2 separate regions of the Homo sapiens genome follow, and region 2 is linked to region 1. Evidence: fine-mapped expression QTL. A gene starts in region 1. The other region holds a variant in brackets. All regions are shown on one strand. Distances are from middle to middle. Region 1 holds the start of KERA (keratocan). Region 2 overlaps LOC105369896 (a long non-coding RNA gene).

Region 1 (16,605 bases):
AAGTAGAAAATCAATCTAATATAAAAGAAAATGCTTGAAAATTACCTTAAAAGATGCAAAATAGTGTGCATAACATGATTTTAAAAGTACAATTAACATAACTTTACATAAGCAATACAGAAAACAATCTTGAATCTTCATCTTCAAATTTATTTAATTGGAAACTAAAATTTTGCTAAGAATTGAATGACAAAGAACTCAAGCCAGAAAATATCCCAGCAGCCTTTTCATATGGTTAGGATGGGAGTAATTGTGCACCTGCCTTGGATCAAAGCCCTTGGCACCAATGACTATGCTGAGATTTAGGAACATACAGGAGAGAAGGCCAGTTAAACTAGCAAAATTCAGGGTACTCTGTAACAGCTGATTTCAACCATGAATCCATATATTACCTTTAAATTCCTTTTCAAAACCATTCCAAACAAGAGATCTTCCCTGATTAGACCCACTGAACTTGGGCAATGCCCCTCCTCTGTGGCCTATTGTTTTATATAGATTCATATTGTAGTGAATAATTTTATGTTTCCAGCAAGGTTGCTTTGCTTTGAATTTATGCCATTTTGTAAACTGAATTTAATAAAAATAATGACTCATTTGAATAGCAGTTTAGTTGTTATAAAATCAGGTTCTCTTTTTTTACATACATCCAAGTATCACCTGATCATCTCACAGGCTTTATCAGCCAATATTATTATTCTACATACCTGGGCATTTTGTGGGAATTCTGGTTCAGAGAAATAAGGAAATGCACACAACTTATTTCAGAAAGTAAGTGGCAGAGCTGAGACCTGGCCGATTCTTTCTAATTCTACAATGTGTCTCTTGCCCAAAAGAATATGTCCCTTTCGATGTGCAATCCCCTTATCCTCATCAAGCTCATGTCCCATAATCAATGTATGTCTGAATAAATGAATATAAAAAAGAAGTATTCTAAATTTAATTACATTTTCATAAATTACAGTGTTTCTCAGGGAACACCAGAAAGTAATGTAGTTGAGTAAATAACATTTTTACCTAATCTTAAATCCCTGAAAGTTTTCAGAAAAATAAATATTTCCATCATATTGCTTAAGACAAGTTCACTGTCTCATAAATTTTGATGTCTTTTCATAGAGGAGATATGTTTCTTAGAGACCACTTTGTTACAACTAGAGTAGATGATGTGGCTAGAAGAAGCAAGTACTTAAACAGTTTTGACACAGTGTGATATTATTATATCAATATTCTCTCCAGGGAAACTCTTATATTTATTTTCTTAAATATTGAAATGACAAAATTTGATATCTACATTAAAAAGTAAATAACTAGATTTCTCTTTGTTGCTTTTCTACTGATAGAATTTTTTAAAAATTTGTATTCATGACAATGAAGGAAAGTATTGTTATTATACTGTATGAGTGAAAAAAACACTTCAGACTCAGGTTCTGGCTATTGCATTTACCCTTTGTCCTTGGGCAAATATCCTCCCCTAGCTGATCTTCAGTTTCTCTCTTTCAGAAATTCCTAATAATATCACACAAGTTTCTCGCAAGGATTAAATAGTAGTTCTCAAATCGTGAGCCAGCAACATCAATACTATTAATACCTGGGGAGTAAACTGTGAGGCCCAACCTCTGACCCAGCAAGTCAGAAATTCTGGGGGTAGGAAACAGCAACCTGGGTTTATAAGATCTCCAGGTGATTCTGATGCACACTCAGATTTGAGAACGATAGAAAATTAGAAACCTATGAGAAAACACTTTGATAAAACTCTAAAATGTGGGTCTATACTACACACATAATACTCCATAAGCTAAAGTCTTATACTTCTCAACTGTGTTTTAAATACTGCTGCCTCACTCCTAAACACCCTAATTCACAAATGCTCAGGATGAAATGCATAATTTGTAAGCAAGGGCTCTATGTGGAGTCACTTGAAGTTTACTTCCCACATCAATTGTCCGTGGGGCTTTTAAGGAATGTACCTGTAATATACCTGTAGAAGCACAGAACACTCGTCAGGAAAAATTATGTATTTAGGTCAATATTGTTGTTGTTCTATTTGATTCAGCTAAACAGATTCATCTCTTAACATTTTTTTTCTGTTGCATCTTTTGTTTTTGACTACAGGATTAAACAATACATTTCATCACCATGGAAAAATAACCGCTATGATGGCAGGCTGCCATTTAATTCCTGGATTGTAGACTCAAGTACACTGTTATTTAACTCCCCCCACCAAAAAAACAAAAATTCTTAAATAACTGAGCAGTTCCCAGTGGAAAAATAGTCTGTTCCTATAAATGATATGTTTATGTGATTATTTGCTTAAAAAGCTTTAGTGAGTAATACCCAGGCAGCACAACCTTTTGACAAATTATCTTTGTTATTCTCTTACAAACTATCCTGACTGAATATTACTTTTGGAATGCATTTTCTTAGGTTGTCCTGGAGAAATCTCCCCAGAGTTATTTTTAAAGGGTCTACTCTGAGTTTGAAGATGCATAGATAAATGCCAGGCTAGGTATCGTACCCCTGTGGCTGGACCTATTTTTACACCAAGTCCAGCCTAGTCTCATGCATAATTGTGAAGAAGCCAAGTTTGTCTCTAATGTGTCCAACATCTGCTTTCTATAATCACTTCTTCTCTTGATGATGCCTCTGCCTCCAAAAACTTTGAATTCATCTCTCACTCCCTTATGAAAAGCTCTTTTCAGGAAAGGAGAGAGTATTCTACCTGACGATTGCCTGTAAGTCCCAAGGAGTTGCCAGCTACCAGGGAAATTTCTTTCCATTTTAATTAATAAAGCCTTAAACTATAGTAGTGGTTCTCAATGTGTAGTTCCCAGAACATCAACTGGACGGCTGTTAGAGATGAAAATTCTCAAGTCTCACTCCACATCTACTGAATCAGAAATTCTGGGGGTGGAGTCACCAGCCTTTACACACTTGTTTGAGACTCCCACTGTAATTAGCGGAGTTTAATTAGAGACTCCAATTAGGAGGGTTTCAGGCATCAGCTGTCATATAGTGTTTAGGACAAAGATGCCTTCCTAATGCCTCTTAAATCATATTTTCTTTATTACTAGTCATGAGGTTGTTTGTGCCTGGTATGGTTTCTTAAATAAGCCTACCCAATGGGGCAGAAATATTGGAATCTCCTGGAGTAAAAGAAGATAGAGGCATTCAGTTTCTCTAATGGATAATAGTCCTCTGTAGATGACTCAAGTCCACTTTTTAGTCTTCAGTTTGAAGATTTGGACTTCTTGGTTCATTAAGACTGTCTGCGTATAGACAAAATTTAATACTGAAAATTGAAAACACACTAAAAATCTAAAGGAACATTAGCGGGGGAGGGGGCAACACATTTGCTCTTCTTAATGAAAATAAAGATACATTTAATGACCATGAGCCCTTTAGTCAAAGACATACTCTGCAGGTTACTTACTTTTAATTTTGTTATGATCAAGGTGAAGGTGCTGCAGATGAGCACTGATTCGGGGAACCTTTGTGAGTTGATTGTGCGACAGTTGAAGATCTAGAATTGATGATACATCAAATCCTCTTGATGGGAGACCCTCATCTGACAGTTTGTTGTGATTTAGTCTCAAAAAGGCCACTTTAGGAATCACATTAAAATAATTTTCTGGTATTCCTTCAATGGAATTGTTGTCTAAAAACAACTGCATTGTATTGGCTGGTAATCTTGGAGGCATATTCCTCAGGGCATTCTTGGCCATGTTTAGCTGCATGAGATTCTTGAGTCCTTTAAAAGTGTCTCTTTGAAAGGCATTGTCCACTAATTTGTTGTTCTGTAGGTCAAGAAGGGTCAGGTTCTCCAGATTGCTAAAGGTCCCTTGAGGAATTCTGGACACCTTATTTCTAGCTAATTGTAATTGTTCTAAACTTCTTGGCAATGGAGAAGGTACCTCCTCTAGCTCATTATCTTCCAGAAATAAGAAGAGCAACTTCTTCAGCTGGCTTAGGGCTCCTTTTTCAATTCCGTAGTTGGTTATTTTGTTCTTGTTTAGATTTATCCATCTTAGCTGGGTGGCATTCTCAAATGGCTTTTCAGGAATGGTTTCTATCAGGTTGTTTTGAAGATAAAGATACCAAATTCTTGAAGGAATAGCAGGAATTTCTTTGAGACCTCTATTTTCACAATATAAAGCAGTAGGAAAACTGGGTGGGCAGAAACATTCCATGGGACACTCGAAGTCATGAATAGTCCAATCATCTGAATCATGTACTTCATAGACCTGCCTCACACTTCTAGACCACACAGTGTCTGTTATGAATAACACCCACATGATGAAACAGATTGTGCCTGCCATTATAGCACCTACAGAAAAAGGAACACAACTGTTAGATATTTGAAGATCTTGACCTTTAGATAATTTTATACATCAAAATGATCAGTAAACATTGCTTCTTCAGGGAAGAGGTGAAAATATGTCAACATTTCATACACAGATCTTAATTAATATACATTAGTTAGTAGGCACCATATGCAAAGCATTTTGCAAACATTGAGAATAATTCACCGACTTGTAGCTTTCTGGTTGTAACCCAAACACAATAAAAGCCGAGAAATGGAAAGAAAATTTTAGCAGCTCTAAGTGTTTTTCCATTTCAAGCTATTTAATTTAAAGAACTGAACTGAAACCAGTAGTTGAATATGAGAGTACAAAAAAGTGATCTTTTAAAAACTCAAACTGGGAATCTGTGTTGTTCCTGAGAGGAAAGCATATGCTTTTACTTTTACTCTTAAATGAGCAGAACATCTGGATGAGATTTCCTAGGCCTTTTGGCCCTTGAACCAAAGGAATGAAGGGATCAAAGAACATTTTAGCACTTTATGGTGAAGGAAGGTTCTAGGATCTGAATAAAAATGTAATTAATCTGTTATTCTCTAGCTCAACCTCTCAAGTAAGTTTTTTGAGGGTGGGGGAAGATGTCTATAATTTTAAGCACACAATTAAGTTGTTCAGCCAAGCTATTGAATTATCAATTCTCTCTCTCTCTCCCTTTCTCTCTCTCTCTCTCTCTCAGAGAATATGTATATTCTGTCTCTATATATGTATATATATGTATATATAGAGATAGAGTTTATTATATAGAGTTGAATACATTGTGATGTATAGCACAAGTACATGAGTATTGTATTCAACTATGCCATTATTATGGTTGATAAGAAACAAAAACAACCAAAAACATATTTAGGATACGGGTGGAGAATTTCTTTATATTCATATTATCAGTGTGGATAATGGAAAGTAGGTTAGCGTTTACTAATATTTGATACATTTAAAACACATAAACCCTCCCCACTGATCATCAAAGATTATTGGTACAAATAATTATTTTAACAGGAAATATACATATATATTTTAATAATTTATAGCATACATATGTTACATATATATTTATATATATATATATATATCAGTAACATTCTGACCAATGTACATTTATTGAACTGATTGATAATAGGATGAAATAAATTTTACTGATTCCTTAGGAAAAGATAAAGTCAACTTCATTTATGAAATGCTGATCATTCAATTTTGCCATTAAATTGCAGAAAACAAGTGCAGAACTGCTTCTGCAAGCTGTCAAATTTTCTAGGATTGCAGAACGCTGCTCTGGCCATGTTCCAACAAAGAAACATCATTTTTTTTTTTCTTTTTCAGAATAGGGTTTTGGTTTAGTTATTGAAGTTGTAACCCTGCGTCTGTTGAATAAGTACTTTGCATGCTTAACTTTAAGAGTTTTTAAAAGTGCAAAATAGTTTACCTTGCCTTCCAGGAATACACCGTTGAGTCCTGTGTCTCAGTCTGAGGTTTGCTAAAAATCAGTTAAGAGAAAAAAAAAAACTTTGACGAAAATAATTTGTTTTTACTTTAAGCTGTCAAGTCGTCTATGAGAAACAGTGAAACCTACTCGTCCCAGTCACCATGAACACCTTTGATCTATTGTTTCCACTTTGACAGGGCTTCAGAAGACTGCTTACCTCAGCCTTCTTGGATCTTCTTCTTCCTTTTCTATTGGTCACTGCTTGTACATGGTAATGGATTGACCCAGGCTCCACTGTCGTGTTTTTATGAATCCTCGGTAAAATATATGCACTAGTAGATCCAAATTTAACCCCTCCAACAACCACGGAATCTTAGTGCCTACACAGCCCAGCAAAGGAAATTCTTACTTTAATCCTAATAACTCATAAAAAAATTTCTAGGCAATTTTCATTCCTAATTCACAGTTCAATTCATTAGTATATGTTGTCATGTACTGATATCCAGACCTTATTTACCAATAGGCAGCTGAAGGCAGTTTTAAAGTATAACAAAAAGATATTTTAAAAGATTTTAAAACATTTTCCCTAGATGATCATTTCTTAAAAATTGAATACAAATAATTAAAAGCCAATGTCTTCTGTTTATATGGACATATTTTATCTGTTCCTGATATAAAATAGATGCTGTAATGTGTTTGACTAAGGGAAAAATAAATAAATATATGTATTTGAAAAAATGTAAATGTGATATCTGGAAAGCACTACCTGATTTTGGTGCTAATCTTGGTATTATGCTTTTTTTCAGAGAAATAATTTTTGTATCCCTATTTCCTATTATATTTCTTTTAACAATTTATTCCAAGTACCTGCTAAGGTGGGATAATTTTTTATTCATTATAATATAACACATGTTTTGCATATAGTCCCTTATGAGACATTCTGTTACACTGCTACTTTTTTCTTTAACACATATCTAAAGTAGTGTGTCCTCCACTTCTGATACTTGATGAAAAAAAATTATGCTTCTTGAGAAAAGATGCAAACAAAAAATATTTCATTTAGGTGTTATTATGTGGATTGATTGTTGTTTTGTTTTTCAAAATCTCTCTTATTCTAGCTTCAGTGAATGTTATATGACTCATTTAACAGCTCACATGAGTATTGTCAAAGAGCACCGTGAAGAGGATTAAGCATTGGATTCAGAGGACCTTTTGTGAACCACCTCTTTCCTCTCTCCTAACCATAGGAGGGTAAATTAAAGTTCAGTTTTGTCATCTACAAAATAGTAATGGATTGCTTCACAGAGTTAGGTCTAGTTTGTTATAAACAATTACAGAAATAATAGCCTTATTTGGAATTAGCCCTACACTCTCAACTGGAAAATGCATTTATATTAAAGGGTTTTTATAGATTGAGATCCTATTTTGACATGATTTTTTACTAGTCCTATAGGTATGTAGGTGTACTCACATCACATTTTAAGAAGACAACCAAGTGTTACTTGCTTTCTCACAACAATTGTCTCCTCTCTCTGTTGCATTTCTCCCTCTCCTTTTCCTAAACCCTCAGGATTTAAACAACAGATGATCTTCAAATCTGCATGGCCCTCTTCCAGCTATTGTCTTACTGTTGATTTTTTTAGCCAAACTGATTTTAGTCTTTTTATAATTTTCTTATACAAATGTTGCTACATGTTCATTGTAGGAAAATTAGAGTAGTATACTGGCTGCCTCCAATCTATTTCCTCTTCACCATTCCACTCATGATCTGCCAACCAAAATATGACTTCTAATTCTGCTTCCCTAAAATGGTTCTGACAGAAAATCAGCAATGATCCTCACATTTACTAATCTGTTGAAGTCTTTTAGTGTTAAGCATACTTGGCCTTTGACAATACTGACCCACCCCCTTTTATTAAATGTTCGTCTTAGTTGTTCTGACATTACTCTTTCCTAGTTTTTCCTCCCATTTTCTGGTGACTTCTCTCTGTCTATATCCCAAAGCTCTATTTCCTCTTTATAACATTATTTAAGAGCATTTCTAGCATTTGGAACCCTTTGAGATTCTGTCCTCTGCTTTGTGCTCTTCTTGCTCTATACACATTTCCTGCATGATTCTATGGTTCCAACCATCTCCTCCATCATGGTAACTCCTGAGTCTGTATCTGCAACCCAGCTTCTAGAAGACCTGCTTTCCAATGTGTGTGTATATCTGCTTTCTAGACATCTCCTGTTGCATGTCTCAAGGGCATATATGTAAAACGAAATTCTCTGTCTCCTTTTACTTCTAACTGCTCCTGTCATTTTATACTTTTGAGACTTTTGTCACATTCAGTCTCCCAAACCACAAATCTGGAAATCATTCTTAACTCTTCTCTCTCATTCTGTGCGCATATGATAATAATCACATTTTAAGGACTTTGGGAGACATGACACAAATAAAAATGATCATCTACAATGCTTGCCGAGTTTTAATATCATTGTTTCCAGACTAAAAACATAGAATTGTTTCCACTGTCAGGGTAATCACTATCTGTGTCTCGATTTTTCCTGTAACATTCTAATCTACTTTTCTTCGATTATTGATTCTTGAAGAGTGGGTACTTTAACTCTTCTCTGGAACTGTTTAAGTTGAATAAATTTCAGAAGTTAGTAAGAATGTCTGAGTCATATGAACTGATATAAAAATTAATAAAAGACTCTGACTAGTCCTATCTGATATTTCAAAAAGGTAGAAAGGAATCCTAAAGTTTAATAAGGTGGCTATGGCACAATCTATCTAGTGACAATTTGATATTTTAAATGTCTATGAGGCTTTGCACATAGCAAGTAGTCAACACATGTTTACTGAAGGAATAAATGAGCAAATAAACATATAAGGCACTTGTATCACTTTTATAGCCATGAGTTTTTGATCAGCATAATTGTGTAAGTAGGAACATAATGGAAAGCCTTAGATTTTGATATTTTAAAAATGTGAGTTTGAATTTTCCTTTGGCAACTTAGTAGTTGCTTGGCCTTGCATAGGCCATTTAACTATCATGAGCCTAAGTCTCCCGATAATGTATTTTCCCTGAGAAGTGCTCGAGGTCATCTTAAGATCAAATGAGATAATGAAGGTGAACATGTTGGATAAGTATAGACAATTTTCATAGTGAAAAATTCAAAGTTCAAGGGGATCTTACAAATCATTTCTGCAAACTTTGCTTTCACATATGAGGAAATGATGCCAGAAATTTATTTCAGAAGAGAATGTGATAGTCGATAATTTTGCCTTCCAGACATAAATCCTTTCAGAAATTTGATAGGAAATAAAGCTGTTGTTGTTGTATTTTTTGTAACTTCCCTCCTTTTTTTTTTTAGCATTTTTTGTTTTAAATTTACTTATATTGCTTCTACTTCTTCCTACTAAAAAGGAAGATACTTTGCTAAACTGTCTTTCACTAAGGAATTTAGCTTGTCACATTCTTGAAGACTATTGACATTTAGAAAAGAAGACAATGCATGAGTGGATAAAAGACATGAAATTTCAAATTTGCTGGCACTTGTATCTGACACATCTGTTTTCAGCGATGGTTGGATGGACTCCTTAGGTGCTCCTGGGAGCTTTGTTTATTTAGAATTGATTGAACTTTTGCTAAGAAAAAGAATTTTCTCTTAATAAATCAATTTCAGCTTTGTTTGACTAAACTTTGTTATATAATTTTTTAAATATAAAAGGAATCCACTAAAATATATATCTAACACACATATACACACACATATATATAAAATCTTAAAATGTCAAAGTAAGACATTTAAAATAGTGTAATGATAATTTAAAAAGTCAAGACTACCACAAAACTCATAATGAAGGTAATAATTACCAACCCCACCCATTTCAGTGTAAGCCCTGCTCCCAAGAGGCCATTATTTTTAACTTTATTCGAAAGCTTTTTTTTAGTATTTGCTTTAATATTCCAGCTTATGTTATTTTTTAATTTGTCAATTTAACCTTTTTAATTAAGTTAACATTTAACATGCTTGCTCAGTCCCATATATGCATATCACAAGCTTTTATTAAATGAATATTTAGTGCATACTTTTTTATACAATATAAACATTGTCTACTACTAAAACATTGCAAAAGTACTATAGATTCTTTATTGTAGCACATTTATTTGCTTTCTCTCTGTATATGTAACTGTACATAATACATTACATATACAAATATTTCATTCATATTTTCCAAAATCTCAAACAGAATTGTAAAATCATTTGAAAAAATTGTTTCCACTCAGTGAATAGAGGCAAATGGCATGGTGCTTAAAGCCACACCTGCTTGGGTTTGAATACATCTCTGCTATTTAGTGGCTGTGAGATCTTAGACAATTATATTTCTAGTTTTCTCTGCCTTAGTCTCCTCATCTTTAAATTAACAATAATAATAACAATGATACTAATATGTACCTCATAAAGTTGTGGTGAAGATTAAATGAGTCAATATTTTGAAACGACTTAGAACATTTTACAATTGTTGATTAAAAAAAACAGACATATTAGATTCATTTTTTTCTCCTGGGAGATAGTATTTCTCCTGAGATGTCATAACTTCCTACTTCAAGGCAATTTCCTTGCTGTTAGAAAGCAACCTAAGCTAATTTGGTAGATCACAGTTATTAGGTTCTTTATGTGACATTTCAGTTGCCTTATAGTTATCAAAGGCTATAAGAATCCTCTCTTACAACGTACGTGGAGGTGTTTTGATAAAAGTAAGTGCAACTCAATTGTATCTAATATAGTAGACATTTACTTGCAGCAGGCATTAAAAGAATTCATGTAGTAGGTCTTCATTATAAGTTTTCTTCCAATGTTAAGTAAGCTTCCCTAAGGTATAAATTAAAATTAACACAAAAATAAATCACACTGTTTCTCTTGAATTACTGCCTTTTAAAGTGAATGTATGGATATTATAAACCTCGCTTTCTGGGTCTGTCAGCGACGGTTATGGTCCTGGACTTCCCTTCACCCAGCTTCTCTGTCGGATTCCTTGTTGCTTCCACCATCTTGTGTTTTCTTGGTTAACACCACAATATTGGCAGAGTCTATCCTCTAATCGCTTCACTTCCTGTTACCTGGGATATGTTTTTGCCTTTTTTTTTTTTTTTTTTAAATTCACGTTTTAAAATGTGTTTATTCAGCCTACCCTCCTACCTGGTATTTTAACTAAATAGAATTTTAATTTAAAATAGTGTTCCTTCAAAAGTTTGACGATATTCGAAGAAGCAATTGTCTTGGAACTTTTCGAGTTGAGACTGAAAACGTTGATAAAATGATGGCCTGAGTCTTCAGAATGTGACCCCTTTCCCTCTCTGAAAACCCTTAGGATTTTTTTTTCAATCTTCACTTTCTGTAATTTTATAATAGTGTGTTTTGAAAGGGTGTATTTTACTCACTCATGGGGCATTCAAAAATTCTTCCAACCTGGAAGTTCATGTTCATATAGTCTATCAATTTTTTTATATTCTCTTTTTTTAAGGCTTAAAATAAATCTGATTAGATTGTCTAATTCTATCTAGTCTTTTCTAATTCCCTTCTCAAAATTGTTTATGATTTCTGACAGATTTCATCTTCTGGTTTTTAAAATTTTCTATATCGTATACATTTACTCTTAGTATACATCAACTTGTTCTCTGATCTTTTTTACTAAAGCATTCTTTTGTTTCATGTAATTACTATCTCTATTATCTCACTTAGGATTTTAACTAAAGAGTTTTGCTGGCAGTGCGAGGTTTTTGTCTTCTTGCAATAATTTTGTTTTCTTTGACTTTTTTCTTGGTTTTACTTAACCTCCAGAGATATTTTATATTAGAGTCTTTCCTCATATGTCTGTTAGTGCTTTGCTGAACATAGATTCATATTTAAAAAGAAAGTCCTTATTAAAATATCTGTGAGAATTGATAGCACCAATCAGCTTTACTCTAGAATGAGTAGGTATGGACTTTGCTATTTTATTGGGGCAAACCAATCCCCAACTCAATATCTATATGTCTTTTTCTTTGTGACTATTCAGTTTCTCCAGAAAAATGTTCTTCTCTCTCTCTACATGCATACACACACAGACACACACAAAATGTATATACATGCTTATTTACATACACACATATATTATGCAATTGTACACACATATATGCATGTGGGGGTCTGCATATACTGAATATAAGTTGACAAAGAAATGTCAATATTTTGCCTTTCACTGCACTTTGTATCACTATGATTTTTTATTAATACTGGTAATAAGAAATTTTTCTGTCATTATGAATAAATAGTAAATAACCTTCTGTTTACAGCTTACTCTTTGTGTCTAAACCATCCTGAGGCTATGCTGATTCCAAAACTAATATTAAACTAGTTATAAACTCTGCCACTTCTAAGCTAGTTATATTTTGATTCAACTGGCATATTTATAACTCTTTTGTGCCAGTTGCTCCAGGACTCCACAGGAAGGCTTTCACTAGCTAATTAAACAATAAAAATAAATACAGCCTTGTGATTTTGGGGAGAGCTCTGTTACCAGCTACCCAGATCACTCTTATCTAGAATCATTTTCTTCCTGCTTCTCAAATTCTCTCCATTTCTACCAAGTTAGCCTTAGAACCATTGGCCTTCAGGAGATATTACCACAGGAGGCTAGCAGCTTAGACGCCAATCAGTTTACAGCTCATCTCCAAAACACTTCAGATGAGCTCTCATACAAGACACAATGTCTTCAGAATGCTGAAAAAAAATACTGTTAGATTCATAATATCTCCAATAATGTTGAGATTTCACTGAATCCCAAATGTATTCTTGTATATCCTTATCCTTGTTATCCTTAACATCTTAACATCTTACAAAACTGCCCTTCCAGGCCATCCAAAATCAGAGCTATATTTTTGCAATCAGTTCCTGCGTATTATATCTTGTCAACTATCATCAGATGGTATTTATACTCTTTCAAGTTATAGAGAAAACCTCTATGAGGTCATAAGTGTGATTTACCAGAAAGGCAGCAGTGCCATAGGACTAGAATCCGTTTGGTCTCATTTCCATTTATATCATGTACTTGCTGAATCAGCACTGCTGGGCAATTCAGATTAGGCTAGATAGACCAGACAATACTGAGTTTATGGGCAGTTAACATCAAATTATTGTTCAGTCTCCCCTAAGGTCCGAAAAGGATAATAATTACTTACTAAAGATAGCATGCTTTTATTTTGGAAAGCTGGAGGTTGAATCCTCCTATTAAGGCTCACCACTGGCTGCATCTAGCTGCCATATATTCTTTGAATATCGTTTAATCAGATGAGTGATAACCAGTGAAATCACTGTGACCACATCTCTCTGGAGAACCACTTCTTGCCATGGGACAAACTGAAAGCTTATACTTTCTCAGTAGTGGATTCGCATGTGGTTGTATGTGGCCTCCACAATTCAAAGAGACTATGTTTCTAGTGGTAATGGATGTAGGGTTCAACAAAATGTCTCCACTGTGAAGGGATATCTCAACTTGTCCTAGACCCTAAACCTCTATAATAAATCAATGAGTTGGCCACTTACAGCCTTCTATTTTATTTATCTCCAACATTTCTGACATTCAAGTGAATGTCAGAAAGTATCTAGCTAATACAGTTTACCCTCTTGATTGTATCACACGATGTCCTGTAAGACAGTATTTCTGCAGACTAAAATATGGCACAAAGTCAAGGAATTAACACAATCCAGGAATAGTATAGCAAAATTGTATTGCTGTTCTTGTCTGGTAAAAGAAAGCATACTGCTTCTGGTCATTTTGTTTATTGGAATAGAAGGAACAGACATTCCTCAGATCATTTGCTTCATACAAGGCACTAAGAGCTGTAATGATTTAGACTACATATGGCACAGCAGTTGCAACAGGAGTTGCCATGTAATTAAACTTCGGAAAATTCATTTTTATCCTCTAAGACTATTTGTCCGCTGTACTGCCAGGCACTAGTTTAAATGGAAATCTGCTGGGAATCATTAATTCTGCACTTTTAAGTCTTTGAAGGTGGCACTGATATGTCTATTTTTTTACTGACATGACCTTGCTATTAATCCAATATTTTTATAGAAGTGAGGAGCTCTGAAATATTTGAGTTTTTTTTCAATCAGAATGGGTCCTTCATTTATGGCTTACAGAGACAGTATGAGAAATCTATCACTTTCAAAGCTCATTAATTTTAATTATACATACAATTACTTGGGAAATATAAATATGAAAAGGGTATAACCTAGAACAAGATAAATTATTCACTTGTCCCATCTTAACACCAAACAACCCTTATAAAGTGGCTGATGACCCCAGGAATTAGTTTTGCCTCAAAGCCATATTTTCCTCTTCAGGGACTAGGTTTAAAAATATATATAGTAGCAAACACTTGTGATATCATTACAAAATACATATTTAAGAAAAAATGCTCTATCCTTAATTCTGGCATTTCTAGGTCCATGATTTGACTGAGGTTTAAAAATTCAATGAAGGGCAGAAAGTCTGCCTCATATATTGTAATGACTCAATTCAGGGCTCTGATGAGTGGTTCTGGAGTTTTACAAATCAAATAACAAGATGGCGAATTTCACTTCTTCATTGCTAGAAATCTAATTTGCAATTGGCCATTATTAAGTTCTCTTTGTGACGGGTGATTCTGATTTCATGCTGATCCTAATACCTATAAATAAAAAATATAGTTACTTTGCTCATTGGCAGTCAAGTGACACTACTTGATCTCTTCCACTCCAGCTTTGCTCTTCTTCACTAAAGGGGATCAATTTTCATGACTCTGCCTTCTACCTACACTATGGTCTGAATTTTTGTGTCCCTTGGAAATTCATATGTTGAAATGTTAACCCCCAAACTGATGTTACTATGAGGTGGGGCCTTTGGGAGGTACTTAGGGCCTGACAACAGATAAATTGGATTAGACCCTCATAAAAGAGGCCTGAGAGATCCCCCATCTCTTCCGCCATGTGAGGACATGGCAAGAAACCACCGACTATAAATAACAAAGAAGCTCCTGTCTGACACTAAATCTGTCAGCACCTTTACTTTGGACTTTTCAGCCTCCAGAGCTACAAAGAAAATACATTTAAATGGTTTATAAGTCACCCTGTGTATAGTACTTTGTCATAGCATCTCAAATGAACTAAGACAACCAGCAACCCATGGACATCACTAAAATCTTTTAAAAGATGCTGGTACTCCCATCCCTAATATCGGTCTCAATGCTTGGTGAAAGTATAATAAATCCACTACAAAATTTCATTTTGAGAAAGTTCTGATTTTGTGCCTTTATAATCTACCAAAGGATCAACTTCATTTAATGTAAGATTCCATTGAGTTCCATTTTGTGATAAGTGGTCCACGAAACTATCAGACTCCCACCTACTTAAACTAGTATAATAAATCCAGAACCTCTAATATAATAAATCCGGAACCAGAACCTATAAGTATGCTCTTATAACTAAAGCTAGTCTGCTCTATTTTTATTGCTCTCCCTCCTTTGTTGAGTATCCTAAAGATCTGTCTTTCCTAATGTGTAGCTAGTATAGATTAGAAAATTCTTATAGTTCATTTAGAATAATGTTTTCATCCCTAGATTTTACTTTTTAATTGATACCCTGTTACTACCTCTCATATTGAAGATTAAGGGGATGGGGCATGACAAGAATTATGTTTCCCCTAAAGCGAATGAATGCCTGAGTTGAGGAAACAGTCTCTGAACAAGTAGAAATTGCTTTACAACTCAAGAAGAGTGGGGCTTTTCAGCAAGCAAAGGAGCTTCAGTGAGGATTGGGGAATCCTTGGCACACCAGTGCATCTGAATCTTGTTGTATAATCCCTATTCCATTTCTTGGGAGGGAGGTTCTGTTTCCAGATCAATGCTCTAACTTTTTATAAAGAGACAAGTTGAATAGTGCATTCATTACAATTCAGAATAGGCTTTTTGATTTGAGCTCTCTTCCTGCAATGGGTAAAAATAAAGCCTTTACAGTGTTAAAATAATTTTATAACCCCCTAGATTTATAAAACCCTTAGATAAAGCTCTTCCAGAACTTCCTATCTATCCTTATTTACAAATTCACTGCTACAACCTTATAAAACACTTTGCAATTTTCTGAACTTGAGCTGAGAACACAGGTATCTGAGTTTCCCATTCTCTTTTTTCCAGCTGTTCCATGGGCCTTTAAGCAGCTACTCTACCTATTAATTATTTCATGCCCTTCACCTTTTTCTGTGACCATAGATACATTGTTCCTCAAAGCCTTACCTTTAGGAGTTGTGTCTTTCAGGTAACTATATGTTTCAATTTTATGAATCACTGTCTTCCAGACTTTCACTCCCAAATAATTTCAGGGTTTTAACCATCTTTTACCTAAGCTATGCAGATAGCCAATGTTGAAGTCCCTACATTGGCCAACAATCTGATGTATTAGGCTATTCTTGTATTGCTATAAAGAAATACCTGGAAAACGGTAATTTATAAGAGGTTTAATTGGCTGATGGTTCTGAAGGTTGAAGGTGAATCAGAATCTTGCACATCACATGGCAAAAGAAGGAACAAGAGAGAGAGGTGGTGGGAAGAGGTGCCACACACTTAAAACAACCAGATCTCACAAGAAATCACTATCATAAACACAGCACTAAGTCATGAGGGATCCTCCCCCATGATCTAATCACCTCCCACCAGACCCCACCTTCAACATAGGAGATTACAGTTTAAACTGAGGTTTCCTGGGGACACAGATTCAAATCATATCAGATGTCAATAACCAATTTCTGTTAATGAT
Region 2 (16,605 bases), 350 kb after region 1:
TGATCATTGTGATATTTCTGCTTAATTGACCAGCCTGGCCCCAGCAGAAACAAGATGGATCCTGAATAATGAACACTGCAAGCTCAACCAATTACTTGTACTGATTGTAGCTATTCCATGAAATGTAGAAATACTGCTAGAGCAGATTAATAAGGCCTCAGGTCTATGGCATGTAGATTTTGGTTTGACAAATGCATTATTTTGTATTCCCATTAGTAATAAATTTACAAACAGTTTGCATTCATGTGCAATAATGTTCATTTAGAGTTTTGCATCAGGCCTGTCGTAGTCCATTTGTGTTGCTGTGAAGGGATGCCTGAGGCTGAGTAATTTATTCTAAAAAATAGGCTTATTTGGCTCATGGCCCTGCAGGCTGTGCAAGAAGCATGGTGCCATCATTTGCTTCTGGTCAGGGCTTCAGGCTGCTTCAACTCATGGCAGAAGGTGAACAGGAAACTGCATGTGCAGAGATCACATGATGAGAAAGGAAGCAAAAGATAGGAGAGGGTAGTGCCAGGCTTTTTTTAACAACCAACTTTCACAGGAACTAATAGAGCAAGAACTCACTAATTACCATGAGAATGTCACTAAGACATTCATGAGGGATTTGCTCCTCTGTTATCCAGAAACTTCCCATTAAGGCCTCATTTCCAACATTGCAGATCAAATTTCAACACGAGGTTTGAAGGGGACAAATATTCAAACCATAGCAAGGGCTATATTAACTGCATTCGCCTCCCACAACATACTATAGTCATCTGAAGAACTCTAGACCACTGAGACATCCAAGGAACAACATATGGATCCATTATGTTGATAACATCACATGGATTGGACAGCAAGAACAAGAAGTGATTGTCATGCTAAAAATCTTGGTAAGACAATATATGCTTCAGAGAAAAGGAGTTAAACCCTATGAAGATTCTTGAACCTATCATTTCGATACAGTATTTAGGGGATTAGTGGTTGTGGCTGTGCTAGAATATTACCTTGAAAATAAACGGCAAATTGCTGTATCTTGAATTTCTTACAGCAAAAAAGATAGCATGGTGCCTGATAGGCCTCGTAGGGTATGGTGACCACACATTATACACCTGAAAATTCTGCTCTGGCCCATTTGCCTGAAGTCATTGAAGGTTGCCTGATTTGTGTAAAACCTAGAATAGGAAAGATCTTCATAGCATGTCCAGTCTGTGGTGCCAGCAGTGCTGCATGTCTTAACAGATCCTATGGCATTAGAGACACCTGTGGTAGGAGAAGATGCAGTGTGAAGTTCCTGACAAGCACCACTGGGAAAATCACAATACAGGTCTCTGAGAACCTGGACTAAGGCCATGCCATCCAAAGCAGAATGTGGCTGGAATTCCCCGAGGTAATCCCCAGTGAGTCATGTCTTTGTACAATCTTATGAATGTGGGTAGAACTTGGGATTTCCTTCTTAGCTAATAGACTCTGGTAAAATTACAGCATAATTATCCCTTTGTTAGGCTATGCTATACTGTGAAGGTGATGAGATAGTCACCCTCTTGATCATGTTACATTTTATTGACTCTGTCTCAGCCAACTGGAGTAAGCCCCTCCTGCTGGCTCTGAAGAAGTAAGCTGCCATGTTATGAGAGGGCCTTGTGGCCAGGAACTGGGGGTATAGCCTCTAGGAGCTGAGAGTAGTTCCTAGCTGACAGCCAGCAAGGGATCTCAGTGTTACAACTGCAATAAACTTAATTTCACCAACAACCTTGTGGAGTTGGAAGAGGATTCTGGACTCCAAACAGGCGCACAGCCTGGCTGACATGATCAAGGACCCAGCTAAGCTGTGTTCAAACTCCTGTCCCACAGAAACTGTGAGAAAATAAATGTGAATTCTTGTAAGCCACTGAATTTGTGCTAATTTGTTATGCTACAATAGGTAACTAATACACAAAGAAATATATGCCTATTCAGAAACAACTTCTGGCATGTTACTCTGCTCTCACACAGATAGAATGCTTGACCATTCTATCTGTGTCAAAACATCTAGAACTTTTCAATATCAGCTGGATTTTGCCAAACCCAACAGCTTATAAAGGTAGACTGGCCTCGCAATGCCCCACTGTCCCATGCAAGTGCTACAGCCAGGATCAAGCCCAAGTTGAACTGCAAAGCATGTATTACCTACATAAGCAGGTAGCCTAGAACCCTGTGTCACCTACTACACTTGTCCTCGTGTCCCTCTCCTAGCTCTGACCTATTTCCATTTGAAGACAGGGTGGAGGTATCCCACAAATCATCTGAAGGGTGAGGAAAAGCCCTGAGGTTGGTTTATAAATAGTTTGCCTTGGTATATGGGTATAAACCAAAAATAGATGGAATCTGCATTACAGCTACAATCAGGGATGCCTTAAAACAGAGTAGACAGAGAAAATCTTCCCAAGGGGCAAAACTGTGAGCACAGAATCTAGTCATTCACTTTTTTGATGAAGGATAAATGGCCCAAGGTAAGAATGAATAGAGATTTCTCTTTTCTTTTCTTTTCTCTTGCTTTTCTCTTGCTTTTCTGTTTTTTATTTTTTTACTCACTCTGTCACACAGGAGTCTGTCACACACTGTCACAGGAGTGCAGTGGCACGATCTCAGCTCACTGCAACCTCCACCTACCAGGTTCAAGCGATTCTCCTGCCTCAGCCTCCCAAGTAACTGGGACTACAGGCGCATGCCACCATGCCCGGCTAATTTTTTGCTATTTTTTTAGTAGAGACGGGTTTTCACTGTTTTAGCTAGGGTGGTCTCAATCTCCTGACCTTGTGATCTGCCCGCCTCAGCTTCCCAAAGGCTAAGCCATCACACCTGGCCATATATAGAGATTTCTGAGCAATGTTCAATGACCTGGCCATCTGATCAGGAGCTTATAAGAAAAAGGATTAAAAGATAGGTGCCTAGGAGATTTGAGGGAGACAGAAGTGGATAGACATACGGAGTGGAAATAAAATACAAAGAGTTTTGTACCATATGTTAATTCCTACTAGAAAACATCCAACCTAGAAATGGCACTGAACAACTAAGTTAACGAAGTGACTTATCCAGTTAATGTTCATTAGCCTTCATCACTGGCTTCCCTGAAGCTGGTATAGTCTCAAGTAAATGAACCAATCACCTGCAGATATTGGAGGGACAACTATATAAGTAAAGGACATAGATATATTTAAATGAAAAGACTAGGGAGTATTTTGCTTTGGAAAGTGATTTAGCCCAGTTGACACAAAATTATAAAATAGTAAATTTTTGTTGATTAGGGGAATAAACACAATCCTTTCAAACCATTTCCACCAGCACTCTGAGCTGGTGCTTCAGCTGGGTCTTTAGAAAGAAGTTCGAGCTCTCTGAGTCCAGTTACTTTTGGATTGTGTGGTATGTGATGTCGTTCATTGCAACACCTTCTTTGATGTGAAATCAGGACAATAGTTTGATATTTTATTTGGGATTCAGTGCCGGTGGATCAGGCTTGGCTCAGATGTCCCTTCAAGAAAGAATCTGCCACATGTGGAACAGTTAGCTCACCACTCTGGCTGCCCTGTTGGTAGGATTTGCTTCAGCTTCTAGTTGCTGGCTTGCTTTCTCTCTGCTCAATATAAAGTGCTGTGCATACACATAAAGTTGGAAAAATAGACAGGCTGATTTATTATTAACATATAACAATATAAAGTATTATATATATATTATACATATATGATTGGAAGTGGCTTGTCAGATGTCTCTGGCTACTGCTAGCATACAACATACAGCTTCCTTGTTAATATTTTTCCAAGAAAGTGCTACTCATTTGCATTTCAACTTGTTTCCTTTTGTAGACTTGGCAACTGAAAGGAAATGTGCATTTAATTGAAACTTTTCTCTTTAGAACATTGTTGATCAAGGAAGACAAAAATCAATAAAATAACTTCATTTGGGGGCAAGGAGTATATTATTTGCATTTTGCTTATAATCCCCATATGCCTGACATACCCTGCCTTCTTGCATAATGTTCTTTACTAGACTTCTAATCAATCTTGATTATCAATCATTTCCTAAGTTTTCTGTTTGTTTGTTTGTTTGTTTGTTTTTTGAGAAAGAGTCTCTGTCACCCAGGTGGGGTGCAATGGCATGATCTTGGCTCACTGCAAACTCCGTCTGCTGGGTTCAAGAAGCGATTCTCCTGCCTCAGCCTCCCAAGTAGCTGGGACTACAGGCAACTGCCACCATGCTAAATTTTGAAGTTTTAGTACAGACGGGATTTTGCCATGTTGGCCAGGCTGGTCTCAAAATGCTAATCTCAGATGATCTGCCTGCTTCAACCTCCAAAAGTGCTGGGATTACAGGCAAGAGCCACCACACTAGGCTCCATTTTCTATTTGTTTCTTATTTTTTCATTATTACAGCATTTTAGCAAACTTGATTTGGGATACATATTTTATGCATCTGGATAAATATGTTTAAGAGTTGTAATATTCACTTTCCACATGACTTCTTGCTTACATTAAAAAAAAAATTTTGTTAAACATATTTTAACACATCTGCTTAAAGAGTGAATTTTCTTTTTAAGTTATGTTTTTCTGTATTTTTATCAGTATAAGATTATTGTACACATTTTGGTGGTACATGTGATATTTTGATGCATGTAAACAATGTGTAATGATCAAATCAGGGTAATTGAAATATCCATTACCTCCATCTTTGTGTTGAGAACATGACAATTCTTCTATTTTAAAATATGAATAAATGATTATTAACTATAATTCACTTACTGTAGTATCGATTAAATTATTTTTAAAATTTTACTTGTCTTCTTCCCCTCTTCGTTCCTCACTTCCTTATGATATTTATTTAGCTGTTGCCTAAAATGCTTGCATTGTTATTTTTTCTTTCTTGCCATGTAACTCAGCGGAGTCTTATGGCTGTTAGTCTCAGGGCTTTGATTATCTGCTTGCTCAGGTAAAATTACATAATTCAATGTTTTTATTTTTTTTTCTTTAGTAACTATAAGTAAAACCCTAAGAAGTAGATCAGCTGCACCATGAAAAAATAGTCATCCCTCCTTACTTTTACTATGAAAAGATAGAAAAATTAAAATATATATATATATATATAGTCAGCCCTCTGTATTCATGAGTTCCACATCCACAGATTCAACAATTATGGATTTAAAATATTAAAAAAAATAACAATACAACAATGAAAATAACAAATATATAAAATACAGTATAACAACTATTATATAGCATTTACATTGTATTATAAGTAATCTAGAGATGATTTAAAGTATATGAGAGGAGGTGAGTAGGTTATATGCAAATAGAATGTCATTTAATGTAGGAGACTTGATCAACTGCAGAGTTTGGTATCTGTGGCAGTCCTTGAACCAATCACCTGCAGATATTGGAGGGACAACTATATAAGTAAAGGACATAGATATATTTAAATGAAAAGACTAGGGAGTATTTTGCTTTGGAAAGTGATTTAGCCCAGTTGACACAAAATTATAAAATAGTAAATTTTTGTTGATTAGGGGAATAAACACTTGCATTTTGTAAGGTAGAGGTGTTAACAAAGTTGTCATAAATTAACAATGTTGCGGATAAAGTTAAACAATAATAAGACAATTGTTGGCCTAAATAACATTGTTTAGCCTAATTATATTTTATGTTTTTTAGTATGCAGATAATTTGCCTGATTAGAGGACTGGTGTACCAAAAGGGCTTTTAAAAATAAATAACCTTGGGAATGAGAATCAGCACAACTATAATCCATCACTTTGTCTGCTTTGAGAACTGAAACCACCTACATCCATATATCTTAATTATTAGGACTCAGAACTAAGCTTCCTTGTGTCAGCATGACTTACATGTTTGGTCCAGGAGAATTCTCACCAAGGCAGATATGAATATGGCCAATGAATAATTTTACTATTAGTTTCATGAAATATGTCAAACCAATTTGGGCAAATAGTTTGCAAATTTAAACAAAAGATCTCCTATCAGGACAATAGATTGCTCACCTAGCAAATAGCTCACTTATCAAACATTTTACTTACCAGAACTACTTGAAGACCCTTGCCTCACTGTGTCTACCAACTGTATGCCACAAACCTTGTCCAATACCCATCAATTTTCTATCCTGAAAGACCTACCTTAAATCAATTATAACCAGATCTCAAACCTGATAGATATTTGGATCTGACCTTCTCCTTCAAAGACAGAACTAACCATACAGGTAATGTTGTCCTGTACTGTACTGCAGTAGGTCTGATAAACGAAACTTTGCCTGGTTGATATATTTTTTGTGTGTTTTTTTGGAAGGGGGAGGATGGTGGTAGAGTTGATGAGATAGCCACAGCACTCGTCCATCACTCTTTCACTGCTACCCATACCATTCCTATGCCACTTCAGTTCCATCATACCTAACTGCTTCCAAGAGAAAAGACACATTATAGTTAACAAGAGTACATTTCTCCTGTATGCAGTTTTTCTCATTTTTCTGAATAAGATTCATTTGAGCAAGTAGATGCTTATAGTACAGACTTTGTTAATTCCACACTAACATGAAGGTTCTGAGATATGAACAAGATGCTAGCAGTTACAGTATCTAAACTATATGACCTTGGGCATGTTTCCCAATCGTTCAAGGTCTCAGCTACCTCATCTGTAAAAAAATGATGATAAAAATGACAATGATAATTGCTAATACATATTTGAACTTAGTACATCTGACGTGAGAACTGAAACCAACATACTTTTCTGTTTTTGTGTTAAAAGATTCTGGGGACCTGGTAAGAAATACATAAACATGGGGCAGAAAATAATTGTCCCTGGAAGATAAATGAACTAAAATAACTTGTTTTATAAGACCAACTACTTACTTATTCATTAATACTTGTACCAATGTCCTTGCCTTACTGTGTCTACCAATCCATAACTCTCAAGTCATCAGCTGCCCAATCCTAATTAGTCTCCTGCTTTTTAAGATTCCTAATAGAACCATCAGCCAAAACTATATATATGTGTGTGCATATTATATATTTTTTTCTGAGATTTCCCATTTTTTTCCTGACATATTTTTTTCTGACATTTTCTATATATTTTCTATATAGAAAATTTTCTATATATTTTCTATATAGAAAATTTTCTATATATTTTTCTGTCATTTTCTATATATTTTTTTTTCTGACATTTCCCATTCTGAGATTCTCCTATCCTACTAGAATGGTATTGACCTTGACCACAGTATGTTTAATAAGTTAGGTTCTGCTAGCTCAGCTGGTTTCTAGCGGTTCCATTTGGGGTTTGGCAGATGGCACAGGCCTTATCCTTAGTACCTTATATGCATTAATTTCTTTAATTCTTAAAATAGCCCTATGAGGCAAGTAATATTATTATCCCCATTTTACAAAAGAGGAAGCTAAGATCCCTGGAGCTTAAAAAGCATATTAGTGCTTTTGTCAAAATTAAATATAAGAAGACATACACATACAAAAAGCCCAGCAAAGGTATCTAGCACAAAGTAAGGTTTATGAAATCTGATTACTATTTTTCTGTTATATTGATAATAGAGGAAAACAATAATTACCTTGCCAAAGAGATCTCCACCGTGAATACTTCAGTGCTATGAGAATTGTATGTATTTTTAAAATCCTCAAAATGTTTGATCATAGAGATCTTAGAAGTTGGGAAATTTTCAGCAAATGTTTGTTTCTCACTTGTGCACAAAATAGCATATATTTATAATGGTCTATGTTTATTTTCTAATAAAGCGTTTTACAAAAATCACTAAGTGTATATATTATTTAAATTTTCTTTTAATCCTTGATCTAAAGTGAGACTATGACATTCAGAGAAGTTTTCTGTTATTTCCAGAGCTGCAAATCTAAGTTCTCAGCCACGTATCACCTCCGTCAGGAGTCAGCAATGGTTTTCTGTAAAGAGCCAGGTAGTAAATATTTTAGGCTTTACTCACCATGTGGTTTCTATTACAACTATTCCACTTTGCTACTGTAGCACAAGAGCAGCTGTGAGTGATATGTAGGGGTGTGGCTGTATTTCATAAAACTTTATTTCCAAACACAGTTGGCAGGCTGTTTCTAGTCTGTGAGCTGTAGTTTGCTGAGGGCTCTTCTAGATGTGACTTTGAGAGCTTCCATGGGGTCATGTGTTTTTTATCCTCTTTGATTTCCTGCTAAGGTCTGACAGCCCTGAGATGCTCATTCATAGATACAGCATTGCATCAACATTTAGATACGCTATCACTAACTTTTCTCGGTAGTCATGACATTTAATATTGTACTTGGGTGACTTCTGTGACAAAATAAAGATATTGTGAGTAAACTCTAGCTGGAAAACAACAACTACTTTACTGTGAGGATCTGAGAATCTAATAATACAATGCTGATGTCACCTGGGGCTCTTCTTCAGAGAAGGCAGTCACTCTACGAGCTTAGACAACAATTTCCCTGAGGATAAAAGAACTGTTTTGTCAAATTCAGCACCCAGTGTGGTTTCATTATTTTAGAATATAAAACTGTTTGGTGATTAACTTTGTTTACACTTGGCAAGTATTGCTTCCTTTTCTGAGGGGGCAAAAGACAAAAAAGCTCATAAAAATTTTAAAAAGCTTTTGA[C/T]TTCAAATAGTTCTTACAAAACTGCACTTGGATGAGTTAAGTGTGGAGGAATCAAAACCATATGGATTATACTTCTTTTAAAATAAACACTGATTTAAAAATTGAGGGAAAATTCTTAAACATAGACTTTCGTCTTCACAGACTCCAAACAGTCAAAAAGCAACTTTAAGAAATTTGATCAACCCAAAGCACAGCTGGGTTTACCCATTCTTAATTATAGTGTTTTCATTGTATATCATGTAAAAATAAACAGCCTCAGGAGTGGGCTACATTCAGCTATTTTAAAAGAGTGTGGGGGCTTTCATTTAGCTCTACTGCAACTTTTGTCCAAGCCCTGGATTTGAGGTAAATTACATATGGCATTTGAAATGCTAAAATGTTAAGCACTGTCACTCATCATATTTTATTTTTTAATTGTCCAGTCATTGACCCCAGAATTAACAAAATGTTGAGAATTGCCTATTTGAAATTATCCTAAGGTGACTTATCCTGACTAGATTTTCATCTAAATGCTTAGTCATCAAAAAATGTGAACCTGGTACCCTTATTTAGTGAAATAACATTTCTGCATGGGGTTAATGCTCATCACATGCAAACAAAATCAAGTTTTCTTAACCACAGTCTTACTTCAAATGAAATCAATTTAGCTATTTATTCATTCCCTACCAGGGTTCAGGAACTTTGCTAGGCACTGAAAGTTCAAAAACAAAAAGATATCTGGTCTCTTACAGGAACTCAAGAAACAAAAGGTGAAATGTAGTTAGGCAAACTATTGCAATACAATGCAGCATTTGCTATAACACATGTAAATCATGGAAGAGAAGACCTGTTTCCTGGAGGACAGGGTGAAGGCTTCTTAGACAAAGGGAAATTTGAATTGGGTCAGTAAGGGTTTCCCTAATGAAAAAGGTAAGCAAGGCATTCTGTGTAAAGAGAATTGGCAAGAATCTAGAGTGTCTTTGTGTGACATAGAGTATAAGGTGGAAGGAGGAATGGCCAGAGATGAATCTAGAAAGTCAGGCCACAGTCACATAGAGAAGGACTTTGTAGGTTACACTATGGAGTCTGGAGTTTATGGTCACTATCAGATACAGTGAGAAAGACAAATTTCATAGCTGTTTGGAGAATAAGTTTTAGGACTGTGTGTGTTTATGTGTGTGTGTGTGTGTAAGAATGGAGGAAGGGTGGAATGCAAAAATAAAATAGGGAATCTTGTTAATATTCTCCAAAAATGCATACTGCAAAATGTAACATAGTTACACAAAAATGTAAAATAAATGCACAAAAAGTCACAAGCCAGTTTTGGCAAGTGCAATTGCTATAGTGACTTGAGGATAGCCTCTACAAAGACAGGAACCAAGGCTGACTTACTGACTGCTTTGTCCAAGCCCTTAGCATAGCACATGGAACATAAGTTGGTAAGCAGCAAGAATTTGTCGAGTGAATGAAAGACAAGTGTGAAGGTCATATTGTATTGATATGAGCCAATGTAATAAGTCATTAATGAACCTCAGAAGATGGAAGATTCACAGGGGTGATACCTGGGAAAACATATCTGAAAGGCAGCTTCAGATTTTTCAATCCATTTACATCAATCTGGAGGGGAGGAGAAAGAGGTAGTCTGTCTCCTCAAGGCTGGATCAATAGCTGTTGGGGCAGCCTCTTAATCATGTTACCTCCTATGTGCTGCTCACTCAGTTTCTATTCGTTCCCCACTGGTGCTGTGTTCAGACTTCCAAAACTGCCCTCCTAGTTAAAGGGAGCAGCACTGACCTAGGAAAGAAGAGATATTCTGTCTTGTGAACCATTAGTCTCTTTCTTCCACCCCTTCCCTTAAGTGACACACTCACCCTTTACATTAAGGATCTAAAAGCAGCATAGGACAGAAGAGGGAACACAACCATTATTGACTTTGACCCATTTTAGTTATATGAGGTTAGCTGAGCCTCAGTTTTCTACTTAGTAAAATGGGCACAAAAATAATGACTAGTATGAAAAGATTTAATTCGATGAGATCACGATTCTGAGTAAGCACTCACTCTCTTAACGAGATCTCTCCTTTCCCATTCCATAGGCTGCCATGTGCCAGCTCTTGTCTTCCTTTCATAAGGGAAGGGATATATCTTCAGGTATAGGCAATTAAATGGAAACTCATGCTCAGCTTTTCACCATTAGAGAACTTTGTTTGTAATTGTGAAATCAATTTATTAGTTTTTTTGTTGAAGAATAATTGCATGAAAAGTCACCTACCACTTCCAAAAGTGAATAACAATGTTCAAGAAGACTGCAATGTAAAGCTTTAATTAAGGCAGAAAGGTGCTTTAATTCTGCAAGGGCACAAGCCATGTGAAGTGTGTAAGTAAAGACTGTGTCTCACAGACCTTCAACAACATGTAGCACTATCGGCCAAGAGAACAGACACTGCTTTGCGATGCCTCCCACAAGCCAAGACCAGTTACTTACTGACCAGGCCAGGAAGGCAAAAGCAGGTCTTCCTGGAAGATTCAAAATTCTTCTGATGGTTAGCATTCACTCAAGGATTTCTGACGCCCTGGCTGAACATTCTGTAGATGATCTGGCAGTTTAGAACATGTCTTCTCAATTTCTCCTTTGCCAGGGATCAGACCTGCATTTTTTTTTTTTTTCAAATTTCCCAGCTCTGTCCCCATTTTCTCTTACAGTTGTGTTCTCTAATGCAATTTCTGCATATTTAATCCCATCTCAGTATCTGTTTCTTGGAGGACTGGAATAACATACTAAAAGATCCCCATGAGAGTTATCTTCTGCTCCAAATGGTTATTAATTTCTTCACCTTTGGCCGGGCGCGGTGGCTCACACCTGTAATCCCAGCACTTTGGGAGGCTGACGTGGGCAGATCACAAGGTCAGGAGATCCAGACCATCCTGGCTAACATGGTGAAACCGTGTCTCTACTAAAAATACAAAACATTAGCCTGGTGTGGTGGTGGGTGCCCGTAGTCCCAGCTACTCAGGAGGCTGAGGCAGGAGAATGGCATGAACCCGGGAGGCGGAGCTTGCAGTGAGCCGAGATCGCACCACTGCACTCCAGCCTGGGCCACAGAGCAAGACTCTGTCTCAAAAAAAAATTTCTTCACCTTCAAAGATCAACCTTGCTAATGATCTTTAAGTGACATTTTACATTTACAGTATGAAACAAACATGTTGTGTGGCCTGCCACAGCTACCACAACTATACATAGGATTACGTCGATTAAGTCTAGACTTTAAGTCCATTTCATAGCCAGTATAGATACCTATCTATCCTCTCCCACTCACATATCTCACACTCTAAAATGATTCAATTTCACCATTCCTCAAACAGTCTTAACCCGCAAATGCTTATGTCTTTGCCAGTATTGTCTTGGGTCTAAACTGATTTTCACAATGTCAGCTCATGAACTCAAGGCCCACCTGAATGGCTTCCTTCTCCTGATACCTCCTTCCATGCTCCCAAGCAGGAGTAACTCCCATACAATTGCTTCTTCTACGGGCATGCCAGTGGCTGAGTAATAAAGCTATTTATAGGTATCTCTGATCACACTATGTATGATTCTTTTTGGTGTTTTGCATAGTGCTTGAGAGTCTGATACATTGTAGGATTTAAGTTCAATAAAAAGCCCAAATCAGCAATATAATATAAAGGAAACAGAATGAATTTGGGAATAGGACAATTTGGTTTAAAATTCCAGATCCCTCATTTATCGGCTGTGTGATTTGAGACAAATCATTTAATTTTCCTGAGGTATATAAAACGGGATAATAGGCCTCATATGACAGAGGCTTTATGAAGATTCAATGTAAGAAGCCTTCTATGTTGCACTCATTCAACAAACTGAGTGCCTACTATGATCCGTGCACTGTGTTACATCCTGAGGATATTTCAGTGAAGGAGAGAGGGTGCTTTATCTCAGAAAATTTTATTTCAGTTATGTAGAAAGACAGTAAGTAGTTAATTTTTTTTTAATTTGCAGATTATCATGACTTTTAGGAAGAAAATAAACAGGATGCTGTGCTAGATAATGATGAGAAGGAGAGGCTACAGACTTCAGGAAGAGCAGCAAAAGTGTCTTTGAAGAAGAGCTGGACAATGTATACCATATGTGCTCCCTATCGGTTAGGGTTCCACCAGAGAAACAGAAGCAGTGTGACACACACACACACACACACATACACACACACACACAAACAATTATATTGTACAATTATTTCTCACCAAAAAGAAAATAAATGTATTTCAATTTTAGACACAAAATCTAATTGCAAACACACATGTGCATATATAGTGTGTGTGAGTGAGTGTGTGTCTGTGTTTATTTCAAGTAATTGGCTTATCATGGTGGTTAGCTAGGCAAATCCTCAATAGGACAGGCTGGAAAATCTCAGGCAGGAGCTGAGGCTGTAGGACACACATTGAATTTCTTTTTTTTACAGGAAAACTTCAGTTCTTTTAAAACTTTTCAACTAATTGGATGTGGCCCATCCAAATTATCAAGATTAATCTCCTTTACTTACAGTCAAGGATTGTATATGTTAATCACATTTACAAAATACCTATACAGCAACACCAAGATTAGTGTTTAATTGAATAACTGAGTATGGTAGCCAATCCAAGTTGACTCATAAAATTGTTCATCACATGCTCTAAGATGTTAATCCCTTAACCATAAATTTCTTAAAGCATACTTTTGAGGATCTGGATGTATAATCAGCTTTTCCAATAGAAATCTCTCCCAACACTTTGGTAACATCTTTCATATCAAAATCACAGTGAATAAGGATTTTAAAATGAAAGACATTTTGTCTTCCTGAAATGTTGTAAGATTCCACACCATGGCAGCTGAGCAGGCTGACCTCTAGGCCATTTATTGTGGTTAAATAGGCAAAAAATAGTAGAAAAGATTTTATTGCTCTAAAACACCCAGCAGGCAGCACAACTATCAAATATCTTTACATACTTATAAGGAAAAACTATATTTCCTTCCGTGTTACCTCACATTTTTGATTCTAGATAAATGATTTAATATTCATTTTATATTAAATACCTAACTTTTCTATATTAAAACTAAATTGAAAACTTATTTTGCAAGTCAATAGTAAGCAAAATGTGAGTCAAAAAGCCCAAGTTAAAAACCACTGTATAAAGTTTGTTAAATACATGTTAAATGAACACAAAATATAAACTGTTATCCCTCTTCATTTATCAAGCATAAATGCTCTTGTGTTTTATTTTCATCACAGAAAAATATAATATTAAATTAATGGTGGCTTGTTTCCTCCCTCCCTCCTGCCTTGGTTCTTAAATGCCGAATAATAGTGTCTACTCTCTTGGTTTTTTAAATGTGGGCCTTGGTGTGTCTTGCCAACTTTTCCCTTGGGAGTTAGGGAGCATCACTTCTGCCAGCACTCCATAAAGATGTGAGAAACCATATTGATCAAGAAAGGCAGAATGGCCCATGGACTCATTGCAATTCATTATTGATTAGGCCACTCTGTCATGTTAACTGGAAACTAATGCTTTCACTTGAGTTTGAAGTCACCCTCCTTTCAGGTGGAGGGAGTTTGGTTTAACCCAACTGTTTTTCTAAGTGCATATCTAGCTCCAAGTCTAACCACAATGTTCTGCCTGTATCCTTAATGCAGAGTACTTCTAGTCATCTTGAACAGGCCAGCTGTAACCCATAATTGGTACTTTGAGGTCCAGTGTTTCCCTCTGACCACACAATGGAAGGTTGGAACAGTTTTGTAATTCAGAGTTATGCTTTCATCAAAGGTGATTTTGCTTTCTTAACACCATTTTCACCCCTGCTCTCTCTCCTAAAATTATTTTTAGTACACATCATAAACCAAAAGTAATCTCATTAGCTGCTCTGAGGAAAATATCTCTCATGTGAAGTAATATGATGCTGAAATTTCAGGATCATTGTAACTGTTACAAAGATGTGTAGTTCAGTAAAGATGATAAATTATGAATTAATATTACATTGAATAACAAAATGTAATCTAATTTTACAGAAAAAATTGGAAACATGGTAGGAGAATAAAATAGATGAGTAAACTGAGGAATGGGAAGATACCAGAATTACTCAGATTCCCCCTGCTAGGCATGGCAATTTTTAATGCCCCATTACTTGTTATTATATCACCAGGTTGGTGTTTTGAAAAGTATTTCTAAATGTTTCTGCAAAACTCCCCGTGGATAAGATTTTTAAGACAAGTATGTTTGATAAAACCATATATCATAACCCCTGCCAAATAATACATAATGCACATTAGTATATTAAAGACTTCACAACAAAGAATCTTGAGTTCATGTTGCCCAAACTTATTTGAATGTCTTTCTTATTATATTTTTATTATTGTTGTATGTATTTTTTAGGCAATTAATAACCTGAGGATGTAGTATTCTCTGGAACACATTTTAGGCAATATTATGCCAGCTTTTACAGCTGGTGTAAAGGAGTTGGGGGCAAAACCAGGAAAATATTGCCCATGGAATTAAATGGGGAAAAGAAGTTTCAAAGAAGGGATAGACAGTAGTGATTCACAGAAAGTAAAAAAGAGAAAGGGTGGCCAGGCGTGGTGGCTCACACTTGTAATCCCAGCACTTTGAGAGGCAGAGGCGGGTGGATCACATGAGGGCAGGAGTTCGTGACCAGCCTGGCCAACATGGCGAAACCCCGCCTCTACTAAAAATACAAAAATTAGCCAGGAGTGGTGGTGTGTGCTTGTAATCCCAGCTACTTGGTAGGCTGAGGCAGAAGAATTACTTGAACCCAGGAGGCGGATGTTACAATGAGCTGAGATCGAGCCACTACACTCCAACCTGGGCGACAGAGTGAGACTCCATCTCAAAAAAAAAAAAAAAAAAAAAAAAAAAAAAAAAATCCCAGAAGGCTTAAAAAAAAAAAAATTGAAAGGCTGATTTTAAAATTTATAGAAAATGCAAATGACCTAGATTTCCAAGACAATTTTGAAAAATAACAAAACTGAAGAAATAACACTACCTGACTTCTAGATTTTATAAAGGCATTGTAATAAAGGTAGTGCAGCATTGGTGCCATGATAGAAGACAAATAAATCAATAAGTCAATATTCCAGAGACAGAGGAAAACTTGAATCTTTATATTGAGAAACCTTCCTGAGTATTCAGCACAATATATACTTAAGTAAATTTACAATTTTGTTTTCTTTCTAATATCTGGATGTTGAACCTAATTATTAGGAATTAGGGTGGGGATGTCCTAAAATTTTGTAATTTTTGCATAAATATATATTGTGCTACAATAATTGTTGTATCCAGATATGACATCTGGGAGTTCTAAATTCCTAAATTTTTTCTATAAATCCTGTCAGAAAACAGGATTATTTAAAATCAGAAGAAAACAAAGTTTAAAAAACTTTTCTTTCAAGACTGCAAACCAAAATTATAAAATAATGTTTAGAGAAATGAAAATATGCTAAGCACCACCCCACCCCAAAAAGGGGAAGTTTGATAAACAATTTCATGCTGGAGGTTATCAATTTCAGTAAAAGAGTAAAAGCCACCCTAGCTGCAAAATGCTAAAATGGAAATTTAGAGAAAAGAGGTGGCCAGAAATGGTCATCATAGGGTGAGAGACAAGAAGCCAACTACCTTAAAATACAAACGTCTTGGACTAACCATAATGTGTTTCATCTGTGATACTTTGTTTTACTCAGCTGTTGCGTGACCAAAATTAGAATGAATATTGCTTCTTTCTCTGTGAGAAAATACAACCAAGTAGGTTGCCGCTTCCTGGTCTGGATTGGGGTAAGTGGTCCCTTCCTCTGGGTGCCTTGGGTCCTGCTTGTTCATGCTGTAAGACAGCAGAGAGAGTGGGCAGAATGGGATGGCAGCTCAGGGAGTCCTGCATCCTGCCTTTATGACAGTAGATAACAGCCAAGAGAAACACACCTTTGCTCCATGCACAGGCTTAATGTGCAC

Evidence for each region. PIP is the estimated chance that this variant, and not a neighbour inherited with it, causes the effect.
Region 2: its variant is the best candidate, but not a certain one, in a credible set for the expression of KERA in gastroesophageal junction (GTEx, PIP 0.56).

Annotation. Positions count from the first base shown.
Region 1 is chr12:91,051,969-91,068,573 of GRCh38, forward strand. KERA (keratocan) reads right to left here and starts at 6,056. Exons shown (of 3, transcript NM_007035.4): 1 at 5,776-6,056; 2 at 3,428-4,321. The coding sequence starts at 4,313.
Region 2 is chr12:91,405,696-91,422,300 of GRCh38, forward strand. All of the region lies in intron 2 of LOC105369896 (a long non-coding RNA gene), which reads right to left. Among named protein-coding and RNA genes, the nearest start is that of LINC02823, 87 kb to the left of the region's middle. RefSeq lists enhancers at 522-1,721, 1,190-1,509. The variant C/T (reference allele first, on the strand shown) is at 8,624.